2 linked regions of the Homo sapiens genome follow. The protein of the gene in region 1 interacts with the protein of each later gene in a pairwise test. Each region holds a gene or a part of one and is shown on either strand. Other genes may lie near its edges. The genes, in order: PBX3 and DGAT2L6.

Evidence for each region.
Region 2: the proteins of PBX3 (region 1) and DGAT2L6 interact in a two-hybrid assay, tested with the Homo sapiens proteins (one large-scale study listed by BioGRID).

What each region holds. Positions count from the first base shown.
Region 1 is NC_000009.12:125,914,552-125,918,384, forward strand, and holds part of PBX3 (pre-B-cell leukemia transcription factor 3), read left to right. Parts: intron 1-1,134; coding exon 1,135-1,376; intron 1,377-3,833. UniProt on the Homo sapiens protein: Transcriptional activator that binds the sequence 5'-ATCAATCAA-3'.
Region 2 is NC_000023.11:70,194,335-70,198,167, forward strand, and holds part of DGAT2L6 (diacylglycerol O-acyltransferase 2-like protein 6), read left to right. Parts: intron 1-3,833. UniProt on the Homo sapiens protein: Diglyceride acyltransferase that uses fatty acyl-CoA as substrate. Particularly active with oleate as a substrate. Has no wax synthase activity to produce wax esters.

The sequences.
Region 1 (3,833 bases):
GTAAGTTACACTAGACACAAAGTGTGTACCACTGTGGATAAACAACAACAGGCACAGACTCAAAAGAGAATCCAAATACAAACAAGCAAGGTGCCAACTTCCTTTTCCCCTCTTCCCCAAGAAGCCTTGTAACTAGTGTAGGGAACCTGCTTTGAAGCAGATTTACAGAGGTTAATTGGGCTGGGATGTTTTAGATTATGTTACACATTAATGAAAATGCTGATTTTGAGCTGTCATGACTCCAATGCTTTTTATACCATGATAATTATTTTAAAACTTTGTCTTCTGTGTTGTTGAAAACATTTTGGCAGAAAGCCTGTGTGACCTGATTAAACCTATGAATTGTCAGCTATGATCTATAGTACTCAGAAGAGGTTGCTGACTGGGCATCACTTAGGAAGTTCTTGATTTAAAAGCAAAATTAGATTGAGACTACTGTGCCCAGCACTGTATTGCCATGTCAATGGCACATTTTTAATACTGTATTTAGTATCCTCGTTTTATAGTTTGCTGGCAATTGCTTAACAATATTCATTTAATAATATATATATATTTAAGTATAGCCAGTTACCTCATAATGTGTGTATTCCTCTTCTGAAATCACACGATGGAAAAGCTCATCTAATGTTGTTTATTTTTCAATTTTTGATTACAGCTTGTGAATTAACTATTTTATGGGAATTTTAATTCTGTTTCTCCAACTGTACAGAGAGAGACAGAATAACCACCTTTGGATGAGTTGTTTTATATCCCTGTAATTATTTTCTTTCTTTCTTAAAACATTCAATTTTTTACCCTCTTCCCATTTTATGCTTAAATTATCTAAATCTGGGAAGCTTGAATGATTAAAATATTCCAGGAAGCCAGGGTTACCTTTTTCTAAGGATCTAGTCTGTGGTAAATTGAGGCGGTGGGGGGGTATTTAAAATTCTAGGGTGCATGTAAACACTATCTTAAAAATAATTTTCATACTTATTCAAACTTACCGATCAAATGTGAACAATGAAGTTCTCAGCATGAATTGTAGTACACTGATGTTGTTTGATCATTTTCTCGAATAAACAAAATACTCACACTATTTGTCCTCTGTTTCTCGCTTCTTCTCTCTCTGTCTCTCTCTCTCTTTCCTTGAAGGTCTCAGCATCAGAGGAGCCCAGGAGGAGGACCCTCCCGATCCCCAGCTAATGAGACTGGACAATATGCTTTTGGCAGAAGGGGTTTCAGGTCCTGAGAAAGGTGGGGGATCGGCGGCAGCAGCTGCAGCCGCGGCAGCCTCTGGAGGTTCTTCAGATAACTCTATTGAACACTCAGATTACAGAGCCAAATTGACCCAGATCAGACAAATCTATCACACAGAACTGGAGAAATATGAACAGGTCAGCAGCCGCCACTCTCATAGTCCTACACAAACCCTCTGTTGCTCTTCTATTAGACCATGCTAACCAATTCTGAGGGCTGTGAGGGGTAGGTGTTAACACAAATTACAAAATAAATAAGGTCAGTGCAAAAATCCAAGTGAATTGTTGGATTCATGAAAGGAAGACCCTTTGAGATTTTGGAGGAGGAGCGCTACCTATTTTATCCCATCTACTTGTTTTAGTTTTATTCATTCCGCACATTCACGTGCCCTTATTACCACACCTGCAGTCATTCTTCCCTCTCACCTCACCACTTGGTGCTCTTCAAAGCTCTGTATAATTAACATTTATGCACTAGCCTTGTTCATAAGCTTTAATCACTTTTGAAGGGAAGCATTGCACAGTGAGCTTTTCCCTCCTATGCTGTGAGCTCCAGAATCCTCCTGGGAATTAATTCTTATGGATTGTGCCAGACTATAGGGAACTTCACCAAGTAAGCAGGTTCCGGCCTGTTTCTCTGAGTATGAGACCTCCCAAGATAATTATGGGTACCCCAGGACAGGGAATGCTAGGCAAGGCATTATGTGCTAAATTCCTTATTAGAAAGAGAATATGGGTTAAAAATCTGGTTCTCAGCAATTATATTAACCATACTGAATCTCAGATAACTTTAAGTTGCATCTTTATGTAACACCAAGAAAAAATTAATACTGCTAGTTTAACTATAAAATATTACTGATTATAAAATGCTTTCACATTTCAGAGATGTTAAAATGTGGAGAAAAACAAGAGAGTCTTAGATTTAATGTAATAAAGTAAAATATTGGTGGGTCTTTTTACATATATTTTAGTTGTTAGTTTAATGCTGAAAAGCTGCCAAGTTTGAGGAATTCTCATTTGATAAGATTTGTCATTTGGAAGGTAATTTTAAAAACGTATTATGAAACATTTTATAATACATGTACACAAAAATAATGAGAATAGTATTAGATTGAACCCTATGAAATTGCTAAGTTTTGAGGCCAAAAACAGTTGAATATGGTAATTTCATAGAGTTCAACCCCAAATAAGGAATCAGAATCAGCTAGATACTTTTTACCCAGATAAACAGTTATCAACATTTTGCCACTCTTATTTTGTGTACCCAGCCCCAATTTGGTAAGAGTATTTTAAAGCAAGTCTTAGACATCCTATAATTTCACCCATGAGTATTTCACTATGTAGGCAAGTACTTTTTAAAGTCCACACACTTTAGTGTGAAATGGGAGTCCTGGTGAGTTTTGTGTGTGTTTGTGTGTATTTTAAAGACTCTTTTAAAGAGGAGTTTTAAGTTCACAGACCAATTTGAGAGGAAAGAAGAGAGATATCACATATACCTCCTGTCCCCACACATGCATAGTCTCTCCCATTATCAGCATCCCCCACCAGAGGGGTTCATTTGTTAAAATTGATTAACCTACATTGACACATCATTATCACCCAAAATCCATAGTTTACATTAGGGTTCACTCTTGGTATTGTGCACTCTATGGATTTGGATAAATTTATGATGGCATGTACCCATCATTATAGGGTCATGCAGAGTATTTTCACTGCCCTAAAGATCCTCTGTGCTATTCATCCCTCTCTTCTTTTATTCTTTCCTTCCCACTGATCCCTGGCAACCCCTGATCAGTTTTAATACTGATTTTTTCCCCTCTACATTCCCTGTATAGTTTCAATTATATATATCGTTGTTTTTTCACATTGCCTTTTCTAATATTCTGGATACAATGGTATTAAGCAAATGCTGAATCCTATCCCAGAGGTGAGTGTGTTTTGAGGAAGAGTAGAAAAATTTGTATAGCTTTAAGTTAAAAAGTAGTGTAAATTAATATTATAAGGTGTTTTCTATTTTTGGAATAGGATTTTCTGAGATCTAAAATTGTATGTCTAGTCTCATTTGTAAGAATAACTTCTTGTGGAAAATGTACAAATAAGAATTTTGGAAAAATTATCGTGTGTATGTATGTAAAAATCCCACTTTCTGATTTGACATATGAATAATTGAGAGTAAACAAAATAAGTCATGGTTGAAAAGGTTGCCCCTGAGCATAAACAGTAGAAAATGACTCTTATTTGTAGTATAATCCTAATTGTATAACTTTATGCTAAAATAACTATAACTACTTACTAGATAAACACTACCAGTCACCTTGCATGGAAAGAGATATAATATTAGAGGCCAAATGGCCTGAGTTTTTTGGCTGAGGAATTAAGGTGATTCCTTACTACCTCTTGCCATGTGTCTTTACACCTGCCTCCTTACTTTCTCCATACACTCTGGTGGAAGTTGTGTGAAGCTGGTGTCAGTCAATGACAAGGTCCTGAGTCTCACTGTTTTAGAAATATCCTACAAAATTTTCCATGAGATTTTATGTAACTTTAGCCCCAGCTTATACCAGCATCAAATCACCAGGGTTTTTTTTTATTGTT
Region 2 (3,833 bases), on another chromosome or scaffold:
ATCCAATACAATCCCTATGAAAATTCCAATGACATTTTTAAAAGAAACATAAAAAAATCCTAAAATTTGTATGAGACAACAAAAGACCCTGAATAGCCAAAGTAATCTTGAGAAAGAAAAACAAAGCTAGAGGCATCACACTTCCTGATTTCAAACTATATTACAAAGCCATAGTAATCAAAACACTATGGTACTGACATAAAAACAGACACAGAAACCAATGAAATAAGATAGATAGCCCAGAAATAATCCCATGCATTTATAGTCAACTAATCTTTGAAATGGGTCCCAAGAATACACAATGGGAAAAGGATAGTTTCTTCAATAAATGGTGTTGAACTAGACATCCTCATGCAAAATAATGAAACTAGACTCTTACCTTATGACATACACAAACATTAACTCAAAATGGATTAAAGACTTAAATGTAAGACCTGAAATCACTAAACTCCTAAAAGAAAATATAGGGAAAAAGCTCCTTGACATTGGCCTTGACAATGATTTTTTGGATATGACAACAAAAGCACAGGCAACAAAAGCAAAAATAAACAAGCAGGAGTACCTCAAACTAAAAATCTTCTGCCTAGCCAAGGAAACAATCAACAAAATGAAAAGGCAACCCACAGAATGGAAGAAAATATTTGCAAACCATATCTCTTATAAGGGGTTAATCTCTAAAATATATAAAGAACTCATACCACTCAATAGAAAAAAATAAAATAACATAAACTTTTTAATAGGCAAAGGACTTGAATAGACATTTTTCCAAAGAAAACATACAAATAGCCAAAGGGTATATGAAAAGGGGCTCAACATTATTAGTCATCAGGGAGCTGCAAATCAAAACCACAGTGAGATATCACCTTACACCTGTTAGGATAGCTATTATCAAAAAGACAAATGGTAAGTTTTGGTGAGGATATAGATAAAAGGGAATCTTTGTACACTGTTGGTAGGTATGTAAATTGTTACAACCAGTATGGAAAATAGTGGGGAGTTTCCAACAGTAATGAAATTAGTGTCTTGAAGAAATATCTGCACCCCCATGTTCACTGCAGTATTATTAGTAATAGCCAAGACGTGGGATCGACCTAAGTGTCCACTGGCAGATGAATGAATAAAGAAAGTGTCACACACACACACACACACACACGAATATTATTCAGCCATAAAAAGGAGATCCTGCCATTTGCAATAACATGGATGAACCAGGAGGATACTATGCTAAGTGAAATAAGCTAGACACAGAAAGAAAAATACCATATGATCTCATTAGAGCTGGATGTGGTGTCACATGTTTGTAATCCTAGCTACTCAGGAGGCTGAGGTGGGAGCATCACTTCAGCTCAGGAATTTGAGACCAGCTTGGGCAGCACAGAGAGAACCTGTCTCTAAATATATATATTTGTAAATAAATGTAAATTAAATTCATAGAAGCAGAGAATAGAATGGTGGCTGCCAGGAGCTGGGGCAGAGGGAAAATAAGGAAAAATTTGTCAAAGGGCACAAAATTTCAGTTACAAAAAGAATAATTTCTGGGAATCTAAAGTATAGCAGCATTAATAATACTGTATTATATGCTTGAAATTTGCTGAGTGGATCTTAAGTATCCTCACCTCTAGCCACAAACACACACAAAGGGTAACTATGTATGGTGGTGAATGTATTGATTAATTTGATTGTTGTAATCATCACACAATGTATACCTGTCTCAAATCATCACATTGTGCACATTGAATATACACCATTTTTATTTGTAAATTATACCTCCATAAAACTGGTAAAAATGAACTTGAAGTGTATTGTAGATCTAAATGTAAAAAAAGAAAACTGTAAAATGTTTAGTAGAAAACACAGGGGAGGTCAGGGGCAGTGGCTCACACCTGTAATCCCAGCACTTTGGGAGGCTAAGGCAGGAGGACCACTTGAGACCTGGAGTTTGAAACTAGCCAGGGCAACATAGCAAGACCCTGTCTCTACAAAAAAATACAAAATAAATTGGCTGGGTGTGGTGGCATGCTCCTGTAGTCCCAGCCACTCTGGAGGCTGAAGTGGGGGGATCGCTTGAGCCCAGGAAGCGGAGGTTGCAGTGAGTTGAGCCGAGATCACGCCATGGAACGCCAGTCTGGGTGACAGAACCAGATCCTGTCTCAAAAAAAAAAAAAAAAGAAAGAAAAAAGAAAAAAAAAGAAAAAAGAAAGAAAGAAAAGAAAAGAAAATATAGGGGAAAAATCTTCATGACATGAGGTTAGACAAAGAGTTCTTTCAGTTTGACACCAAAAGCACAATCTATAAAAGAAAAAAAATTAATAAGTTGGGCTTCATCAATATTAAAAGCTTTTGCTGTAAAAAGGACCCTGTTAACAAGAATGAAAAGATAGACACAGATTAGGAGAAAATGTTTGCAAATCACATATCAGACAAAAAAACTTATATCCAAAATGCATAAAGAACTACCGAAAGTCAACAGTAAGAAAACAACCCAATTGAAAAATGGGCAAAAGATTTGAATGGACACTTCACCAAAGAGGATATACAGAAAGCAGACAAGCACATGAAAAGCTGTTACGCATCACTAGCTATTGGAGAAATGCAAGTTAAAATTATGATGAGCTACCAATGCGCATATATTAGTTTTTTTTTCTTCTTTTTTTTTCTTTTCTTTTCCCCCAGTGCACATATATTAGAATGGCTTGGCCATCTTCACTACAAACTAAATTAGGAGCCTACCTATGTGAACTTCCTCTTTGATAACCCTCTCCAAGACGCCTCACTTGAACGTGACAAGAGAAATTGGAACCATCTTCTGGTGTCAAGGCCATAATACCTAAGGGAGTGTCACACATACATAAATGCTTGTTCTTCATCATTCCTTCTTCAGATACCCTTGCTTTATGTCACGGAACTCTTTTTACATGAGACTTAGCTCTTCCACATTTGGCTTCTATTTCTCCTATATCTTTAAATTCCACTTTTGTTACCGTGCACGACACTGATGACACTCGGGCTGGGTCTGGAAGCCTTGCTCTGAAAAAAACGTTCCTCGTCTCCTGCCGGGTCATATCTGCAGTTCCAATAGGTTCCACAAGGGGGATGGTGTTACCCAGGTAAGGGCTCTTAGACCGCCTTTAGGACTGGTGGATGAATGAATCAGATAAAAGGCACACAACTAATCCGTCTATGCTTTTAAAATAACATCACATTTAAATAACACTATACATGCTGACTAAATAGTAATTATCAAGTTTACTACTGAAAAGAGAAAACATTTGCTTATTTCGTTTTCAATTGGTCTACAGATATTTGTTGAACACCTACTGTGTGCCAAGCTCTCTTCTAAATACTGGGGAAACAAACAAAATTTATTTGAAACAAAATATAAAAGAAATGATACACTTAGGCTAACTTTAATTAGTGATTATTCTTATTTAACTTTATCTGAATTTCCTTCTGAAGCTTAACTGGCAAATTTACTCTCCTCTTTGATGAAGGGCATAGATAGCAAGGCTTTTTCTCCATGGCAGGCTTCCCATAAAACTCCTCCCACCACGCTTTCCTGTCTAATTTGAATGCTTACAACAACTATCTCGACCAGTGCTTATGAGGGCAATTCAGCCTATTACAAAGGTTTCTTCTACTCCATAACATGACTTTTTAAAGCACTGTCCACTCAGCCTTTTTCCTGCTATTTTCATTTATGTCCAAAATGCAAGAGACAAAGAACTGGTAGGTAACTCCCGAGTTTCTTCTTCCCTGAAACTTTTATCTGCTATGACATGGTACCTGGTCAAAGAAGTCATTCCCTTAGCTAAGTCTTTTTTTATTCACCATAT